3 separate regions of the Homo sapiens genome follow, and all the other regions are linked to region 2. A link means that fine-mapping ties the variant in region 2 to the expression of a gene that starts in the linked region. Tissue or cell type: whole blood. Region 2 holds a variant in brackets; each other region holds the start of a gene. All regions are shown on one strand. Distances are from middle to middle.

Region 1 (5,951 bases), 20 kb before region 2:
CTGGGTCCTTGAATCCCTAAGTCCCTGGGTTCCTCAGTCCCTGAGTCCCTGAGTCCCTGAGTCCCTGGTCCCTGAGTTTCTGAGTCTCTGGGTTCCGAAGTCCCTGAATCCTTGTGTCCCTGAGTCCTTGAGTCTCTGAGTCCCTGGGTCCCTGGGTCCCTGGGTTCCTGAGTCCCTAGATCTCTGGGTCCCTGAGTGTCTGAGTCCCTGGATGCTAATGTATATAGGTCCCTAGTTCTCAGGGCCCCTGAGTGTCTGAGTCTCTGAGTCTCAGGGTCCTCGAGTGTATGGGTTTCCAGATGTCTGAGTCTCTAGGTGTTGAGTCCTTGGGGCCCCTGAGAGATCTGAGTCCCTGAGTCCTTGGATCTCCCCGCCCTTCCGTACCTTTCCACATCAAAAGGGAAGCAGAATTTAGGCACCATCTGCATAGCTTCCTGGAGGTGAAGAAAAGCGCAGACTGCTTGGCCACTGAGGTCGGGCACCACCTCCCTGGGCTCCAGGTCCAAGAAACCAAGTCCCCTCCCCCTGGGAGACTGGCCCTCGCCCTGGGGGAGCAAGGAGCCAGCCTGAATACCTGGTCCCTGAAGTCTGGAGGGAACTGCCGCAGGATGGGGGGATCTGTAGAAGAGAGCACGCCTCTAAGTTCAGCGACCCAGGCCCACCCTCCCCTCCCACTCCCTCACTCCCAGGCTCCCAACTCACCCTCCTGCAGGGAGGCAGGGCAGGCCGCTTCGAAGAACCAATCAAACACAGCAGGGGAGCCCCCTCTGTGGGATGCAGAAGGGGTCCAGAGACTTGCTTCTATGCATGTGTGGTTGTGTCTGCCACTTTGCACACAAGTGTGGTTGTGTGTGCATGTGCCACAAGGTGCGTCGGCATGTGCATGACTCTGGGGGTTTGTGGCTGTGAGTGTGTGGTTGTGTGAGGCTGTGTGTGCAGCAGTGTTAATTGAACACACAAGTACAGGATGGAGTGAGAAAGTGTGACTGTGTGTGTGTGGCTGTGTATGATTGTGTGTGGCTGAGTGCATGGCTTTTGTGAGCAGGCAGTGTGTGTGTGATCCTGTCTGCTGTCTGCCTGAAAAGATGAGACTGTCTCCTATATCTGTGGCATGAGACTGCACAGATATGAAGGACAGCCCGTGCAGTCCCAAGCTAAGTGAATTACATCTCTCTCTCTCTATATATATATCCATCTATCTGTCTGTCTGTCTGTCTCTGTCTATCCATCCATCCATCCATCCACCCACCCACCCACCTATCCATCCACCCACCCACCTATCTATCTATCTATCTATCTATCTATCTATCTATCTATCTATCTATCTATCTATTTTTTTGAGATGGAGTTTTGCTTTGTCACCCAGGCTGGAGTACAGTGGCACGATCTTGGCTCACTGCAACCTCCACCCCACAGGTTCAAGCGATTCTCCTGCCTCAGCCTCCCTGTAGCTGGGATTACAGGTGCCCGCCACCACGCCCAGCTAATTTTCATATTTTTAGTAGAGACAGGGTTTCACATACTGGCCAGGCTGTTCTCAAACTCCTGACCTCAGGTGATCTGCCCGCCTCAGCCTCCCAAATTGCTGGGATTACAGGCTTGAGTCACTGCATCTAGCCATGCCATCTATATTTTCTTGTATAGATGTGAGTGTGTGTGCCCGAGCAAGTGAATGACATCTATATTTTCCTGTACAGCTGTGAGTGTCACTGGGTAACCGCGTGGGATCCTTGTGGGCTGGCTGTGTGTCTCTGTGTGTGAGACCCCATAGAACCCTCGTGGCTGGTCCCACATGTCTCATCAGAGAAAGGAGGGCAGGATACCTAGGTACTTACTGTAAGCCCTGCAATCTCTGCTTTCCTCCTCTGCCCCCATATCAAGCAGAAGAGGCAGCCTTGGGCTCAAGGAGAGAGACAGGGAGATCTAGAGGGAGATCAGCTGCACACACACTGTCCCGCCCAGTTGCACACACAGTCCCCACCATGGGTACCCCAGCACTTCACCCTCACGCCGACACAAGTCACACACGATCACCCACTCATACCAACACCCAGCCTCCCCTCTGCCCTGATCATCCGCCCTGTGGACCCCCTGAAGCCATCACTCAGACATACCAAGGACAAAGCTCAGAGGGGTACATGCATTCACAGAGCTATAGACATAATCACAGGAGCTGGATAGAGAGAGAGAGAGAGAGAGAGAGGAGGGGACCGAGAGTGGCCTGTCCCAGAGTGAAGGTCATAGCGGAGGCCCATGGAGTATCTGATTCCAGCCACCTGCCCTGGCAGGTCACTGCACCTCCCGGGCCTGCTCCAGCCCCAGCTCCCCTCTGCCCCGGCTCAGGCCTGGCCCGGGAATCTTGTACCAGAGAATGAGGGATGGGGTGGCTCTTACTCAGCTCTGGATTCCATGGTCCCTGCAGGGCCAGCCCAGCGGGGCCCTCTCCCCAGGGGTCCTGGGGGCCTGTGTATGCTGGGCCCCAAGCCGGCTCAGCTTCCTGTGTGGCTGAGAGAGGAAGTTTAACGGGTGACGTCCCCGGACAGAGGCCCTGCCCCCACCCCCGTGAGAAACCCAGGCATCCTGCCTGCTAATTATGTTGGGGATGGGTGGGCAATAAGTGGTCAGCCTGGGAAGGCAGACCCCCAGCTCCGTCCCCGCCAGGCTGGACTGTGTCTGGTTCCCCCCATCGTGCCTGGGCCCTCATCTCTCCTTCCCCGCTCCGCAGCAGCCAAGATTCACAGTCTGTCTATTAATGAAATGCCTCCCCGTCTCTTTCCCTTGGTCCATTTGGCCTGGACGGTCACTGGTGGACCACCAGAGGGAGCCACCTGTAAAGTGGACGGTGGGGGGGCCAGGGATGGGGACAAAGAGCACGAAGTACAGGCACAGGGACGGACAGACAGACACAGACACAGACAGTTACACGCTCAGGAAGTCATCAGCACAGACAAACCGAGTGCAGAAGAGCCAGAGACGACAGACATGGAGAGATAGGGAGTCCTACAGCTGGATCATAGTCCCAGGCCGGGCACAGTGGCTCACGCCTATAATCCCAGCACTTTGAGAGGCCAAGGTGGGAGGACCGCTTGAGCCCAGGAGTTCGAGACCAGCCTGGGAAACATGGCGAAACCCTGTGTCTATAAAAGCTACAAAAATTATAGCTGGCGGTGGTGGCACGCACCTATAGTCCCAGCTTACCCAGGAGGCTGAGTCAGGAGGATCGCCTGAGCCTGGGGAGTTTGAGGCCATAGTGAACCAAGATTGCACTACTGTACTCCAGCCTGAGCAACAAAGTGAGATCCTGTCTCAAAAAAAAAAAAAAACAACTTAGTCACAGTTACACACCCATTGTGCGCAGAAAGACAAGGTAAGCGGATCACTTGAGGTCAGGAGTTTGCAACCAGCCTGGCCAACATGGTGAAACCCTGTCTCTAATTAAAAAAAAATACAGGCCAGGTGCGGTGGCTCACATCTGTAATCCCAGCACTTTGGGAGGCTGAGGCAGGTGGATCACGAGGTCAGGAGTTCGAGACCAGCCTGGCCAAGATGGTGAAACCCAGTCTCTACTAAAAATACAAAGATTAGCCAGGCACGGTGGTGGGCATCTGTAATCCCAGTTACTCAGGAGGCTGAGGCAGAATTATTTGAACCTGGGAGGCGGAGTTTGCAGTGAGCCGATATCGCGCCGCTGTACTCTAGCCTGGGCGACAGAGCAGGACTCTGTCTCAAAAAATCAAAAACAAACAAACAAACAAAAAATTAGCTGGGCATGGTGGCATGTGCCTGTAATCCCAGCTGCTTGGGAGGCTGAAGCAGGAGAATCACTTGAATCCGGGAGGCAGAGGTTGCAGTGAGCCGAGATCGTGCCACTGCACTCCAGCCTGGGTGAAAGAGTGAGACTCCATCTCAAAAACAAAAACAAAAACAAAGCAAACAAACAAACAAACAAATGCAGAGACAGACAGAGACACAATAAACAGTTACACAGAGACCACAGCCATTGATACAAACAGAATAACAGAGAAATAGACCCAGATAGATGGAAACACAGCACAGACATAGCTCAAGTAATAACCAGATATAGTTATAGCCAAGACCCGGCCACATGCAGAGAGAGACACAGCTGGACTCACATGACAGCCAGATACTCATGACAGCCCGACACACTCAAGCCGTGCTGCAGACTATGAAAGACACAGGGGCTGGAGGCAGTGGCTCAGTAATCCCAGCACCTTGGGAGGCTGAGGTAGGATTGTTTGAGGCCAGGAGTTAAAGATCAGCCTGAGCAATATAACAAGACCCCATCTTTACAAAAATTAAAACTTTAGCCAGGTGCAGTAGTCCCAGCTATTCTGTAGGCTGAGGCGGGAGGATCCCTTGAGCCCAGGTGGTGGGGGTTGTAGTGAGCTGTGATCGTGCCATTGCACTCCAGCCTGGGCAACGGTGTAAGACCCTATCTCCAAACAAACACAGGAACAAACAAAAACAACAAAAAAGACACAGGCACACAGGTGGACAGACGTAGTCATGTTGAGACAGGATATGTGAACATATCTGCAGGCACAAAAACAGAACATGATATAGTCAGGGTCACACCTACACATGAAATCCTGCCAACAGACTCAGACCACTGTGTGGTGTGAAAACACCTCGTGGCCGGGTGCGGTGGCTCACACCTGTAATCCCAGCACTTTGGGAGGCCGAGGTGGGCGGGTCACCTGAGGTCGGGAGTTTGAGACCAGCATGGGCAACTTGGAGAAACCCCGTCTCTACTAAAGATACAAAATTAGCCGGGTGTGGTGGTGACACATACTTGTAATCCTAGCTACTCAGGGGGCTGAGGCAGGAGAATTGCTTGAACATGGGAGGCGGAGGCTGTGGTGAGCCAAGATCGTGCCATTGCACTCCAGCCTGGGCATCAAGAGCAAAACTCCATCAAAAAAAAAAAAAAGAAGAAGAAGAAGAAGACACCTCGTACCCACAGTCACTGGACACATACAGAGTCAGAATCCCGTCAGCCACATCCTCACACAGTCTGATGGACATGTGCTATTGTCCGAATATGTGTCCCTCCAAAATTCGTATGTTGAAACCTAAAGCCCCAAGGCAGTAGTAAGAGGAGCCGAGATTGCGCCATTGCACTCCAGCCTGGGCAACAAGAGTGAAACTCCGTCTCAAAAAAAAAAAAAAAAAATAGGTGAGGCCTCTGGGAGGTGATGAGGTCAAGAGGTATCCACCCTCAACAGTGGGATTAATGCCTTTATAAAAGAGGCTTGAGGCCCAGTGCGGTGGCTCTGGCAGGGTGCAGTGGTTCACACCTGTAATCCTAGCACTCTGGGAGGCTGAGGGGGGTGGATTGCTTGAGGCAGAAGTTTGAGACCAGCCTGGGCAGCATGGTGAAACCCCGTCTCTACAAAAAATACAGAAATTAGCTGGGCATGGTGGTGTGCACCTGTAGTCCCAGCTACTTGGGAGGCTGAGTGGGAGGATTGTTTGAACCCAGGAGGCAGAGGTTGCAGTGAGTGAAGATTGCACCACTGCACTGCAGCATGGGCAGCAGAGAGAGACTCTGTCTCGGGAAAGTAAAAAATAAAAAAATAAAAATAAATAAATAAATAAATAAAAAGAGGTTTGAGCTAGGTGTGGTGATAGCGCCTGTAGTCCCGGCTACTTGGGAGGCTAAGGCGGGAGGATCACTTGAGCCCAGGAGTTCAAGCCTACAGTGAACTTTGATTGCACCACTGCATTCCAGCGAGTGACAGAGCAAGACTCTATGTTAAAAAAAAAAAAAATTAAGGCTGCTATGACAAAATATCTGCAACCTCTGCCTCCCAGGTTCAAGTGATTCTCCTGACTCAGCTTCCCAAGTAGCTGGGACTACAGATCTGTACCACCATGCGTGGCTATGTAGCTAGCTACTTGGGAGGCTGAGGCAGGAGAATCGCTTGAAC
Region 2 (7,680 bases):
AAGATTTCAAAACATAATGATGCAGTTTTGTGGCCGTGGCCCATCATAGGTCCTTGGGAAATGGCTGGGTGAAATCAAGATGAAATGAGATTGGCCAAATGGTGTGAGTGATTTCAGGAGGACCAGAGGGCTTACAGTTGGGCCAAGAGATTCTATGGCCTCTGGGTGGCCAGGGGGTGGGAGGAGCATTAAAAGTGTGGGCTCAGACCAGGCGCGGTTGCTCATGCCTGTAATCCCAGCACTTTGGGAAGCAGAGGCAGGCAGATCACCTGAGAGGTCAGGAATAGGAGACCAGCCTGGCCAACATGGCGAAACCCCGTCACTATTAAAAATACAAAAAATTAGCTAGGTGTGGTGATGCATGCCTGTAGTCCCAGCTACTCGTGAGGCAGGAGAATCGCTTGAATCTGGGAGGTGGAGGTTGCGTCACTGCACTCCAGCCTGGGCAACGGAGACTCCGTCTCAAAAAAAAAAAAAAGCGTGGACCTAGTAGTCAGACCCTCTCCTCTGGCTCCTGACAGCCCCAGTGGCTTGCAGTGTGACTTTCTGCAAGTGACCTAACGTCTCTGTGCCTCTGTTTTCTCACCTGTAAAATGGAAGTAAGAGGCGAGTTGCGGAAAAGATTCAGAGAGGCAGGACAGGTCCTGCATTTAGCACGTCTTACATGCTGGGAGTATTGGAGGCGGGTGGAGCCAGGGTGGGGACATGCAGCCAGCTGGAGCCAGGAAAGCTTTCCCGGAAGGATTGTCCCAGGGTGTGGACACCCCACTATCTTCACATATGCTGTTGCCTCCGTCTTAAACATCTTTCCTCCCTTCCATGCCCTTTGGCCAGTCCAAATCCTACTCACATTCTAGACTGCAGATAGTAATGAAAACAACGACAAATGCTTATTTACCTCTTTCTCTGTGTCAGGCATTGTTCTAAACTCTACACATATTCATGACTTTAAGCTTCACAATTTTTTTTTTTTTTTGGAGACGAAGTTTCACTCTTGTTGCCCACGCTGGGGTGCAGTGTCATGATCTTGGCTCACCACAACCTCTGCCGTTCAAGCAATTCTCTTGCCTCAGCCTCCCGAGTAGCTGGGATTACAGGCATGTGCCACCATGCCTGGCTAATTTTTTATTTTTAGTAGAGATGGGGTTTCTCCATGTTAGTCAGGCTGGTCTCAAACTCCCGACCTCAGGTGATCCACCCGCCTCGGCCTCCCAAAGTGCTGGGATTACAGGTGTGAGCCACCGTGCCCACCCTGAGCCTCACAATTCTAATAGCATTTTAGAATCCCTGTTTTATTTGATCTTTTTTAGAGATGGGGTCTCACACCATCGCTCAGGCTGGAGTGCAGTGGCACCATCATAGCTCATGGCAGCCTCAACCTCCCAGGCTCAAGTGATTCTCCTACCTTAGCCTCACGAGTAGCTGTGACTACAGGTGCACACCACCTCACTCAGCTAATTAAAATTTTTTTCTTTTTGTAGAGACAGGGTCTCACCATGGTGCCCAGGCTGGTCTCGAACTCCTGACCTCAAGCTCTCTTCCTGACTCAGCCTCCCAAAGTCCTGGGTTTATAGGCATGAACCACCATGCCCAGTGAAATCCCTGTTTTAAAGACGAGGAGGCCGGGCAAGGTGGCTCATGCTTGTAATCCAGCACTTTGGGAGCTGAGTTGGGTGGATCGTTTGAGTCCCGGAGTTTGAGACCAGCATGGGCAACATAGAGAGACCCACCTCTCTACAAAGAAAACTAAAAAATTAGCTGGGTGTGGTGGTGCATGCCTGTAGGTCCAGCTACTTGGGAGACTGAGGCAAGAGGATCACGTGTGCCCAGAGGTGGAGGTGACAGTGAGCCGTGATCATGCCACTGCACTCTAGCCTGGGTGACAGCAGGACAGACAGACCCTGTCTGAAAAAAAAAAAAAAAAGAGGATTTTTGAGGCCCAGAAAGGCTGAGGAGCCCATCCTAAGTTATCCATCTGAATCAACCCCTGGCAGAGCTTTACTTATTTATCTCCTTTGTGGCCTATCACCTTCTACCAGAATGGGAGCTGCACTGGGGCAGAGAGGGAGCTCCGGCTGTTTGATTCTTACCTGGATCTCCAGCTTCTAGAACAGGGCCTGGTATGCAGTGAGTGCTCACTGTTTGTTGAATGCATGAAGTGGCAGAATTGGGATGTGCACCCAGGCAGTCTGGTTCCGGTTCAGACCGTTGAATTAAAATGCCACCTCCTCCAGGAAGACTTCCCTGAATCCTTCTCTGTATCCGCCCTCCTCAGGGCTCTCACAGTGGCCTGAGCATCCCCTCATCACAGCCCTGGATGCAGGGCTGGTGCCTGGTGCCCTGTCCACCCCATCTCTGGTCTGTGGGCCCCGGTGGTGGCTGTTGACTCTGTGGTGTTAGCAGGAATAAGGAGGTTTTCCAGCCTCTGGCTCCCTGCTGGGGGACTCACCAAACACGAAGTTGTCCGGCCGAAAGATCTGACCGAAGGGGCCAGAACGGACAGAGTCCATGGTGCCGGGTTCCAGGTCCACCAGCACCGCTCTGGGGACATAATTTCCTCCTGCAGGGAAACAGATGGAGGGCAGTTCGATGCGTGCCAGGAACCACAGGCGCCCGGTAGCATCCTGTTCCCTCCCAGCTGCCCCTTCCCACCTGGAAGGTGCCTCCTTCGCCCTACCTGTGGCCTCGTTGTAGTACACGTTGATCCTCTCCAGTTGCAGGTCACTGTCCCCATGGTATGTGCCTGTGGGGTCGATGCCATGTTCGTCACTGATAACCTCCCAAAACTAGAGAGAGAGGTGGTCGGAAGAGTTGAGAGAGGGGAAGCCGGTGGCCAAGCCGAGGACTGCCCCCAGCCCCCAACTAGCTCCCTAGCTGCCACCTCTCCCCCAGCAAGGTGAACGGGGGACCTAGAGGCATGGTGTCGGGGCGAGGATGAGGCAGCAAGAAGGAGCGGTGGGGGCGGGGTGCAGCCGAGTCAGCACCCAGCGGGGCCGGCTGGTGCCAGCGCACCCAGGCTGCAGCCCGGGGGAGGCACCGGGGCTCTTTGTGCGTGAGGAGGGGACAGTGGCCCAGCTGTGGGCCCAGCTGTGACAGGCGGACAGAAGGCTGGCTCCCACTCTCCGCAGCCTCTTTGTTCCCAGTCTGGCCCTGCCACCCCCACCCCGCGACCCTTCCCCCAAGGCCCCTGGGGCGCGCTGGCCTCCTGGGGACCTCATTCCTTTCCAAAGACTCCCAGGTTGCGGGGTGCTCCGGGGACCGACCCCGCGGTGCTCCCCGGGGCCGCCACTGCCTCCCCGGGCCCCGTTCCCCGAGCACCTTGGCCCCGATCTGGTTGCCGCACTGGCCGGCCTGCAGGTGCACGATCTCCCGCATGGCGGTGGCGCTGAGGGTGGACGCGGCGGCGGTGGCACGAGCGCGGGGAGCTGCGGCGGCGGCGAGGGTGGAAGATGCGGCGGAGACGGCGGAGCACGGTCCCTGCGCCCCCGGGAGCCGCTATATGAGCGGGCGGGGCACGCGTCACGGCCGGTCACCCTCCCGCTCCGCCCCTTGGTCCCGCCCCGGGATGATGGAGGGGGCTGGGGTGGGGGGAGGTGGTGCAGGGACCTCCCTCCCCAGGGGGCCTCCCAGAGAAGTCCGGGACGCCACGTGCTCCGACCCCTGCCTTGGGGGTGAGGCCCCTTAGGGAGCCACCAGTGCAGTCTCCCCCGTCCCAGCCCCCAGCCAGGCTTGGCCACCCGCAGAAATTGGGCG[G/A]AGGAAGGGAGGGGAGCGCCTGGTAAACAGGCATCTGAGAAGTCCTGCCCCTCCCCCTTAGCCTCCACCCTCCCGCCCCAGGCCTTGCCTCAGTTTCTCGGTCCGCAGCCCCCCTTCTCATTCTATTTAGACCTCATTCGCCAGAATCCTTGCAGTAACCGCGAGCCCTCCCAGTGGGCTGGGGGCTCCGGAGCGGCGATCTGGTTTGCGGGTGGGGGGCGGTAGGTTCCTGGAGGGCTTGTCCTGAAGCTGCATAGTAAAACCACGATTTTCCTCCCATGATTGGGTGCAGATGCTGGTGGGCTCCCCTGGTACACCTCTACTGGGCATTGAGCTCGTCCCAGGTGGGGTCACCCCCAGCCTGGCCTAAGGAGGAGAGTGGAGGAGTAAGACAGCTGGGTTCATATTGGGAGGGGGACAGTGAGTCCCCAGGGCTGCCTCGCTTTCCCAAAATAACACCCCTCCTCTCCAGTATTGTAATTTATCTTTATCTATATCTATACCCTTTTTTTTTTTTTTTTGAGACAGAGTTTCGCTCTTGGCGCCCAGGCTGGAGTGCAATGGCCCAATCTCGGCTCACTACAACCTCAGCCTCCCAGGTCCAAGCGATTCTCCTGCCTCAGCCTCCCGAGTAGCTGGGATTACAGGCATGTGCCACCACGCCCGGCTAATTTTTTTGTATTTTTAGTAGAGACAAAGTTTCTCCATGTTGTTCAGGCTGGTCTCAGACTCCTGACCTCAGGCCATCTGCCCACCTCTGCCTCCCAAAGTGCTGGGATTACAGGCGTGAGCCAACGCGCCCGGCCTATATATATATATTTTCGGACAGGGTCTTGCTCTGTCCCTCAGGCTGTAGTGCAGTGGCATGCTCATAGCTCACTGCAGCCTCAATGTCCTGGGCTCAAGCAATCCTCTCACCTCAGCCTCCCAAGTAGCTGGGACTGCAGGTGCATGCCATCACGCCTGGCTAATTTTCAAGATTTTTTGTAGAGATGGGGTCTCGCTATGTTGTCCAGGCTGCTCTCCAACTCCTGAGCTCAAGAGATCCTCCTGCCTCAGCCTCCCAAAGTGCTGGGATTCCAGGCATGAGCCACTGCGCCCAGCTCAGTATTATAATTTATTACCCACCATCTCCCTTGCCTCTGCATTTCCTGTAGCATTAGGTGTATGACCTTGCCCTGGTGCTCCTCTCTGTGTCTGAATTTCACATTTGCAAGTTGGGGTGGTGAGGAAGGCCCACCCTCCAGGGTCTGATTATGCGATGACCCAGTTAACAAGGTGGCGATAGTCTCCCCTCCTGCAGAGTCAACAATAAATTGTATCTTTCTCGAGTCTAAGTATTATCAGAGGCTGGACTGGACTTCCTGTGCTGCCCCTCATGTGAAGGTCAAGCCTCCTGGGGCTGCTTCCTTGGACAGCCTCCAGTCCCGCCCTCCCAGGAAGTCTCCTCCTCGCCTCCCATCCTTGACTTTCCCACTCAAGGACTTTGGTGTATTGCTGGTGGGAGGTGGGGTAAGCCATCTTGGCCATGTGGTTGGGACCTCACATTTGCCATGGCCACTAATTTTTTTTTTTTTTTTTTTTTTTTGACAGAGTCTTGCTCTGTCACCCAGGCTGGAGTGCAGTGGTGCCATCTCGGCTCACTGCAACCTCTGCCTCCTGGGTTCAAGCCATTCTCCTGGCTCAGCCGCCCCAGTAGCTGAGATTACAGGTACGTACCACCATGACCAGCTAATTTTTGTATTTTTAGTAGAGACGGGCTTTCACCATGTTAGCCAGGCTGGTCTCGAACTCCTGACCTCGTGACCTGCCCACCTTGGCCTCCCAAAGTGCTGGGATTACAGGCGCGAGCCACCGCGCCCAGCAAATTCTTTTTTTTTAATTTCTTGCCCTGTCATCCAGGCTGGGGTGCAGTGGCATGGCCATGGCTCACTGCAGCCTCGAACTCCTGGGCTCAAGTGATTCTCCCACCTCAGCCTCCCGAGTAGCTGGGACTACAGGCATGCACCAATATGCCTGGGTAATTTTTGTATTTTTTTGTGGAGATGGGGGTCTTGCTATGTTGCCCAGGCTGGTCTCCAACGCCTGAGCTCAAGCAATCCTCCCACCTCAGCCTCCCAAAGTGCTGGGTTTACACATGTGAGCCATCGTGCCCTGCCCAATGACCACTAAATTTGACCAGTGGCTCTCAACAGCGTGTGTGTGAGAGTGTGTGTGTGTGTGTGTGTGTGTGTGTGTGTGTGTCGGGGGGGCGGGGGAGCGGTGATATTGCCTTCCCAGGGAACACTTGGCAATATCTGAAGACATTTTTGGTTGTCGTACCCAGATGGGGGCGGGGATGTGTGTGTGAGACTATGTGTGCACTACTGGCATCTAGTGGGTGGAGGCCAGAGATGCTGCTGAAAGCCCTTCAGTGCACAGGACGGCCCCACCCCAGAGAATGATGCAGGCCCAATGTCAACAGGGTTGAGGCTGAGAAATCCTGTGTTAATTATTTTGGGAAAAAATTTGTGTTAGCCCCTTCGCTCACACTAGATGCCAGAATAAATTCCAGAGGGGCTAGACCTTATATGGGTTTGGTGGGGCGATCCCTTAGCTTCTGTGACTTATATACTCTCTCTCCCTCAACTCAGTTAGTATGTGTGTATGTATGTTTTTATCTTTTTAGCAAGCTATTTTTTTTTTTGAGATGGAGTTTCGCTCTTCTTGCCCAGGCTGGAGTGCAGTGGTGCAATCTCTGCTCATCTCAACCTCCGCCTCTTGGGTTCAAGCGATTCTCCTGCCTCGGCCTCCCGAGTAGCTGGGATTACAGGCATGCACTGCCACGCCCGGCTAATTTTGTATTTTTAGTAGAGACAGGGTTTCTCCATGTTGGTCAGGCTGGTCTTGAACTCCCGACCTCAGGTGATTCCCCTCACCTTGGCCTCCCAAAGTGCTGAGATTACAGGCGTGAGCCACTGCACCCGGCCGCCATTTTTTTTTTTTTTTTTGAGACAGTTTCACCCTGTTGCACAGGCTGGAGTACAGTGGTGTGATCATATCTCACTGCAGCCTTGACCTCCCAGGCTCTGGTGATCCTCCCACGTCAGCCTCCTGAGTAGCTGGGACTACAGGTGGGCACCACCAGGCCTGGCTAATTTTTGCATTTTTTGTAGAGACAGGGTCTCGCTATGTTGCCCAGGCTGGTCTCAAACTCCTGGGCTCAAGTGGTCCTCCTTCCTGTCAGGCCTCTGAGCCCAAGCTAAGCCATTGTAACCCCTATGACCTGCTCGTATACATCCAGATGGCCTGAAGCAACTGAAGATCCACAAAAAAAGTGAAAATAGCCTTAACTGATGACATTCCACCATTGTGATTTGTTGCGGCCCCACCCTAACTGATCAATGTACTTTGTAATCTCCCCCACCCTTAAGAAGGTTCTTTGTAATTCTCCCCACTCTCAAGAATGTACTTTGTGAGATCCACCCCTGCCCCCAACACATTGCTCCTAACTCCACCGCCTCTCCCAAAACCTATAAGAACCAATGATAATCCCACCACCCTTTGCTGACTCCTTTTTCCCACTCAGCCCGCCTGCACCCAGGTGAAATAAACAGCCTTGTTGCTCACACAAAGCCTGTTTGGTGGCCTCTTCACACGGACACGTGAGACACTGCCTTGGCCTTCCAAGGTGCTGGGATTATAGGTGTGAGCCACTGCGCCTGGCCAGCAAATGATTTTTTATTTACTCGCATAGTATAGCTCCAATAGGAAAGTAATTTGGCTTAGCACTCTTTACAGCTCCAGCACAATCTTGAAGGCATCCTAAGGTTTCTCTGACCCACACCTAACAGTGGCTTTAAAAAACGGCCGGCCGCGGTGGCTCACGCCTGTAATCCCAGCACTTTGGGAGGCCGAGTTGGGCAGATCACGAGGTCAGGAGATCGA
Region 3 (5,951 bases), 43 kb before region 2:
GTTTAAGGGATTCCCGTGCCTCAGCCTCCCCAAGTAGCTGGAATTACAGGCATGCACCACCACGCCTGGCCAATGTTTGTATTTTTAGTAGAGATGGGGTTTTACCATGTTGGCCAGGCTGGTCCCCAACTCCTGACCTCAGGTGATCCACCTGCCTCAGCCTCCCAAAGTGCTGGGGTTACAGATGTGAGCCACTGCGCCTGGCCAGATCTGTCTGACTTCAAAGCCCCAACCTCTCAGCTGTATCCTCCTTGGGACTGGGTCTGGAGCCCAGAAGACAGAGATGGCCAAGGGGTCACTGTGTCCTGAGTTACTTTGGATTCCAGACCCCCAGCGACTCACCTGTGCAAAATTTTCTCAGCCTGCTCCAGCGAGATGGAAATGCCCAGAGCTCGGAAACTCTGTTGGATCTCAGAGACATCAATGTGACCTGGGGAGGGGGCCGGAGGTGGGGAAGGATGTGCGTGTGAGGACACCTGGGGAACCCCAGGACCAAGGATCAGAACAGCTTGGAATGGAGGTGGTCTAGCAAGATCAGGGGCTCCAGAAACCTAGGAGGAGGTTTGCAGTAGGGCTGTGGGGGGACCCCTGACTCACTGGGGTCAGAGAGGTGGAACTGGGAAATACTGGGGGGGCTTCTCTGTTCTGTAAATGAATGAAGGAATCCAGGGGTAATTGTAGGGGTCTCTATGCCATGGGGGATTGAGAGGCAATATCCACAACCCAGATGCTGCTATGAGGGGATCTCTGTCCCACAGGGGACCCAGGAACAGCATAGGGTATCTTTGCCCCATAGAAAAATCTAAGGGTAATTATCGGGGTTCTGCCCCAGTAGGGAAAGGAGGTGGGATGGGCTGGCTGGGCCTCGAACCACCTAGCTAGGGGGTGAGGAGTGCTCCTGAAATAGCCTATGAGTCATCGGGGAGAAGCGGCCCTCCCCCTCTCCTCCTAGCGCTGCCAGTTCTAACCCCACTGATGTCTCTAGGGCCCCCACAGCCCTATCCCTTGGGGCCTGCAGGCAGGTCGCCCGACCTTACCATCCTGGTTCCGGTCAAGACTGTGAAACATGAGCAGCAGACGCTGTTCCCGCTCCTGCAGATAGCGGGAAAATTCCTCCAGGTCGAGCCCGCCATCTGGGTCAGCATCACCCTCAGAGGAGATACCCTGACAGAGGGAAAGGGGATAGAGGTGGCTCCAGGAACCTGCTCCTGATCTGGAGGGGACGCATGTCACCTTATGCCTTAGGAACCCAGAGCCCCCAGCGCCTTGAGGAAGGGGATAGAAGACGTCACCCCACTTCTCCCTCAGTCAGCTAACTTCTCAGCCAGATCCCTACAGCCACCACAGGTCTGTGCGGTGGGTGTGAGTGGTCTAGTTTTCCTGGTGAGCAAACTGAGGCTCTGCAAGGTCAAGTCACCAGTTCAAGGTCACAGAACCAGGAAATGGTAACCTCAGTTCTCATCTGTAAAGCCTGTCCTTCCAGCTGTCTCTTGTTTTTAGTTTTTGTTATTTTTTTAGGTATCTCATTCCTGTTGAACCCAGCTGCCTCTTAAAAAACCCTGTCCACATGGGGGACCCAGGGGTTCCCTTTGGAGGAAGCCCTGGGCGATGTGGGGCAGGAGAGAACCAAGCGGAGTGGCTGAGGCCTTGGTTTTTCCCATTTGGGAAGTGGGAGGTTGGACTGCTCTCAGGGTTGCTGTGGTTCTCTTAGAGCGATCTGGGGCTACAGGTGTGGGAAGGACCTGCAAAGTGGAGGTGGGGGCAGCGGGAGGAAAGTCTTGTTATAGGTGCATTCCCAGCTGCGGGTGACCGCAGACAGGATTGGGTCCCTGGCTGGGGCAGCCCGGGACAGTGAGCCAGGCCCGTGAACGGCCCATGAAAGGGCAGGCCAGGGAATGTAAACACAGGGATCGGGGCAGCTGCAGGCCAGGGCAGTAGGTGCCCAGAGGATGGAGGGTGTGTCTCCTGGAGGTGAGAGCAGGGCACGTCATGGGCTGTGCAGTCTGGAGGAGGGTGTGTCCCGGGCAGTGGGCAGGAAAGCGCCCCCATCTCTTCCCAGGCAGACGCCCCCTGCCCCGCAGCAGGGGGATCGGGTGTTGGCCGCGGAACTGCAGGCTTGGGGCCTCGGCGTCCCTGTCTTGAGCGATCCCGTTAGGCCAAACACGAGTGGGTAGGGGGAACGAGACAGAGACACAGGTTCTGGAGTCCAGCCACAGGTAGTCCCTGGTGGCTCCGGCCGCCCAGTTCAGGGGCTTGGGTAACCGGGAGCGGGCGGGGCCGGGAGGGGAGGAGGTCCCTGGGGGTGGGGGTACCTGTTGGGCGCCGGGGTCTGGGTTGCCCCCGCCCAGCCTGGCCAGCCCCTGGCGCAACTCGTGCACGTCCACGCGGCCATCCTTGTTACTGTCCAGCTCCTCGAACAGGCGACCCCAGCGCTGCCGCCGCTCCGCGTCGCCCGGGCTCCCCCGCATGGCGCCCGCCCGGGGGGGAGGGGAGGCCCGGCAGCGGCGGCCTCAGTGGGGGCTTCGCGGCTCCCCCTCCCCCCCCGGGACCCCGCAGGGTCAGCTCCCGCGGCCGCCGGCTCCGCAGCCTCCGCGCAGTCCGCTCGGCTCTGGCACTTGCGGGAGGTGGTGACGGCTAGCCGTCGCCGCCCGCGCCAGAACTTGCGTCTCCTCCCCCGACCTGCATTGGGGGGAGGGGACCGAGGGCGGAGCTGGGGGCGTGGGGAGGGAATGTCTGGGATGGTCTGGTATTGCACAGCCGAGGAACACCAGAGTTCCTTCTGGGAAGACGGGCTAGGGAGCTCAGTGGTCTCAGGTCTGGTTTCAGAGTTCCGCCTCTGCGTGCCTCAGTTTACCCTTTCCCCCTTTGCCCAAGGGGGCAAGGTAGAGCGCTGTCGGGGATTGGGTTTCATAATCCCCTTCCACTTGACCTCCCCGCCACACCCACTAATCTTCAGGAACTCAAGTTCTCGCTTTTCCCAGACGCACGCAAGAACCGTGCACCATCTCGCTCGCTCTCTGCCCGCCCGCGCCTTACACCTTCCCCGCTCGGCCGCAGAAACAGAAGATCCAGGAGCGATGCTCTCCCACTGTCCCTTCTTCCCGCCCGCGCGCTTCCTTTCTCGGTTCCCACTCTGACTGGGAAACAGAAAATCAACGCGCGGCGCGGCTGCAAAGTCGGTTTCCTATTGGTCAGCGCCTCCTGGGCTGAGCCCGCCCGCCCCGCCTCTTCTCCCACCTAGGCGGGGCCTCCCCGCAGACCCCCGACTGCCTCCAGCCCGCAGTCCCACCGCCTGCCAGGAGATCTTAAAGGGGCCGCGGCCGCAATCAGACGCTGAGCGGCGTGGGGAGGGGGTGGCTCAGTGACCCGGGCGCGGGGTTGAGGATCCCAGTGGTCGAGCGCTGGAGGCAGGGCCCCAGCCTGTCGCACTCGCTGCACCTGCGGAATGTCCCTACTGCTAGTTTCGGGCGCAGTTTCTCGATCCACCATTAGGGGGAAGGGAGCCCAGACCACTTGACAGCGAATACTCGATAACAAATCTCACTTTGATTCAGTGCTTTGCACATGCCAGGGCTTTTACTCACCTCTCGAGTCGTCTTTGCCAAAACCCTATAAGGTAGGTGGTACTGGCGTTCGCACTTTGCAGATAAGGAAGCGGAGGTTAAGTCATTCTCCCCAGTCCTGATGACCACTAAGGGGCAAAACAGGGTTTAAAGAGATCTGGGATCCTTAACCATCACTCTATACCCTAGAAAGAATTAATTATCTTTTTTTTTTTTTTTTTTTTGAAACGGAGTTTCGCTGTTGTTGCTCAGGCTGGAGTGCAATGGCGCGATCTCGGCTCACTGCAACCTCCGCCTCCCGGATTCAAACGATTCTTTTGCCTCAGCCTCCCGAGTAGCTGGGATTACAGGCGCCCGCCACCAAACCCAGCTAATTTTTGTATTTTTAGTGGAGACGGGGTTTCACCATGTTGGCCAGGCTGGTCTCGAACTCCTGACCTCGTGATCCGCCCGCCTCAGCCTCCCAAAGTGCTGGGATTATAGGCGTGAGCCATCGCACGCAGCAGTGAGTTTTTTTTTTTTTTTTTTTTTTTTTTTTTTTTTTTTTTTTTTTTTTTTGAGATGGAGTTTCGCTCTTATTGCCCAGGCTGGAGTGCAATGGCACGATCTCAGCTCACCACAACCTCCGCCTCCCGGGTTCAAGCAATGCTCCCGCCTCAGCCTCCCAAGTAGCTGAGATTACAGGCGCACACCACCACGCCCGGCTAATTTTTGTATTTTTAGTAGAGACGGGGTTTCACCATGTTGGTTAGGCTGGTCTCAAACTCCTGACCTCGTGATCCGCCCGCCTCGGCCTCCCAAAGTGCTGGGATTACAGGCATGAGCCACCATGCCCGACCGCAGCCGTGAGTTTTGTATTTTTATTAGAGACGGGGGGGGGGGGTTTCACCTGTGGACCAGGCTGGTCTCGAACACCTGACCTCAGATTATCCTCCCGCTTCAGCCTCCCAAAGTGCTGGGATTACAGGCGTGAGTCACCGCGCCCGGCCTGGCCTAATTATTCTTTAATCATCACTTGTCACCCAAGGGTCCTCAGGAGGGGGTCTTGTTATTATCATCATCCTTTATCCAAAGATACAGCATTGGCCGGTCTCGGTGGCTTAGGCCTCTAATTCTAGCAATTTGAGAGGCCGAGATGGGAGGATCGCTTGGGGTCAGGAGTTTGAGACCGGCCTGGGCAATATAGCAAGACACCCAACTCTACAAATAATAATAATAATTATTATTATTTTTTTTAAAAAGGAAAGAAAACAAAGATACAGTCGTGAGGGCATATTTAGTTCACGCCCAGCCTCTGCCTAGACAGGTGTGCTGGAACAGGTGTGCCCCAGACAAATGAGTCTCTTCTAAGAGGCTCCCCAGCAGAGGTTTTCATTTACAGTTGTTCCTTGCAGGTGCCATACAGCATGGAGTGATACAGAGGTTTTTTTCCATGTAAGTGCCCCTAAATAGGTGTTTTCTCACAGATACATTCTTGACAGGTGGGCCTCAGTGTATGTGAGCCCCTGCCCTGATGGTTTTACCCACAGATGTGTGTCAATGTGAGTGTGCCCCGTGCAGATGTTCCAAGTTCTTCCCCTCACTTGAGCTCAATTCCATACAGGTGTTCCTCCTACAAGGTGCTTTCTCTTACCTCACAGGTATGTTTCTGAGCAGGTTTCCCTCCACCCATGAATGCATTCTACAGTCTCCCGCCCCGTAGGTGTGTTTCAGTTAAGTATACACCCATCTGGGTATGTTTCCATACAACCGAGTCCCATACAGGTTTACGTAAATGCAGGTGTGTCTCATACAGGTATTTACAAGACACTGACACCCAGGAATTCCCCCAATGCAAGTGCCGTACATTTCATAGGTGAGCCATGCAGATATGTTCCTAAAACAGGTCTATTCCACATCAGAGTGCCTTAGTTAGCTGTTTGTGATGATAATGCAGGCGTGTTCTATAGAGATACTGTCCACCCTGGTGGTATGTATCCATTTGGTTATATTTCTTTTCTTTTTTTGACAGTCTTGCTCTGTCACCCAGGCTAGAGTGCAGTGGCGTGATCTCGGCTCACTGCAACCTCCGCCTCCAGGGTTCAAGCGATTCTCCTGCCTCAGCCTCCCAAGTAGCTAGGATTACAGGCGCCCACCACTACGCTAGCTAATTTTTGATTATTTTTTAGTAGAGACGGGGATTTCACCATCTTGGCTAGGCTGGTCTCGAACTCGTGACCTCGTGATCCACCTGCCTCGGCCTCCCAAAGTGCTAGGATTACAGGCGTGGGCCACCATGCCCAGCCTTGGCTATATTTCGTATAGCTGTGATTCAATGCAGATTTTTTTTTTTTTTTATGAGATGGAGTTTCACTCTTGTCACCCAGGGTGGAGTGCAATGGTGCAATC

Evidence for each region. PIP is the estimated chance that this variant, and not a neighbour inherited with it, causes the effect.
Region 1: it holds the start of DENND1C, and the variant in region 2 is fine-mapped to the expression of DENND1C in whole blood (TOPMed, PIP above 0.99).
Region 3: SLC25A23 starts here. The variant in region 2 is fine-mapped to the expression of SLC25A23 in whole blood (INTERVAL, PIP above 0.99).

What each region holds. Positions count from the first base shown.
Region 1 is chr19:6,479,285-6,485,235 of GRCh38, forward strand. DENND1C (DENN domain containing 1C) reads right to left here and starts at 2,503. Exons shown (of 23, transcript NM_024898.4): 1 at 2,395-2,503; 2 at 703-767; 3 at 575-618; 4 at 385-434. The coding sequence starts at 2,411. RefSeq lists enhancers at 598-1,097, 2,694-2,988.
Region 2 is chr19:6,498,838-6,506,517 of GRCh38, forward strand. It overlaps TUBB4A (tubulin beta 4A class IVa), which reads right to left and starts at 3,472. Exons shown (of 4, transcript NM_006087.4): 1 at 3,319-3,472; 2 at 2,678-2,786; 3 at 2,450-2,560. The coding sequence starts at 3,375. RefSeq lists silencers at 2,989-3,098, 3,269-3,448, 3,459-3,728, an enhancer at 5,856-5,995 and a cis regulatory region at 5,873-6,350. The variant G/A (reference allele first, on the strand shown) is at 3,754.
Region 3 is chr19:6,457,161-6,463,111 of GRCh38, forward strand. It overlaps SLC25A23 (solute carrier family 25 member 23), which reads right to left and starts at 2,632. Exons shown (of 10, transcript NM_024103.3): 1 at 2,313-2,632; 2 at 1,038-1,164; 3 at 343-430. The coding sequence starts at 2,468. RefSeq lists silencers at 2,384-2,443, 2,494-2,633, 3,144-3,323.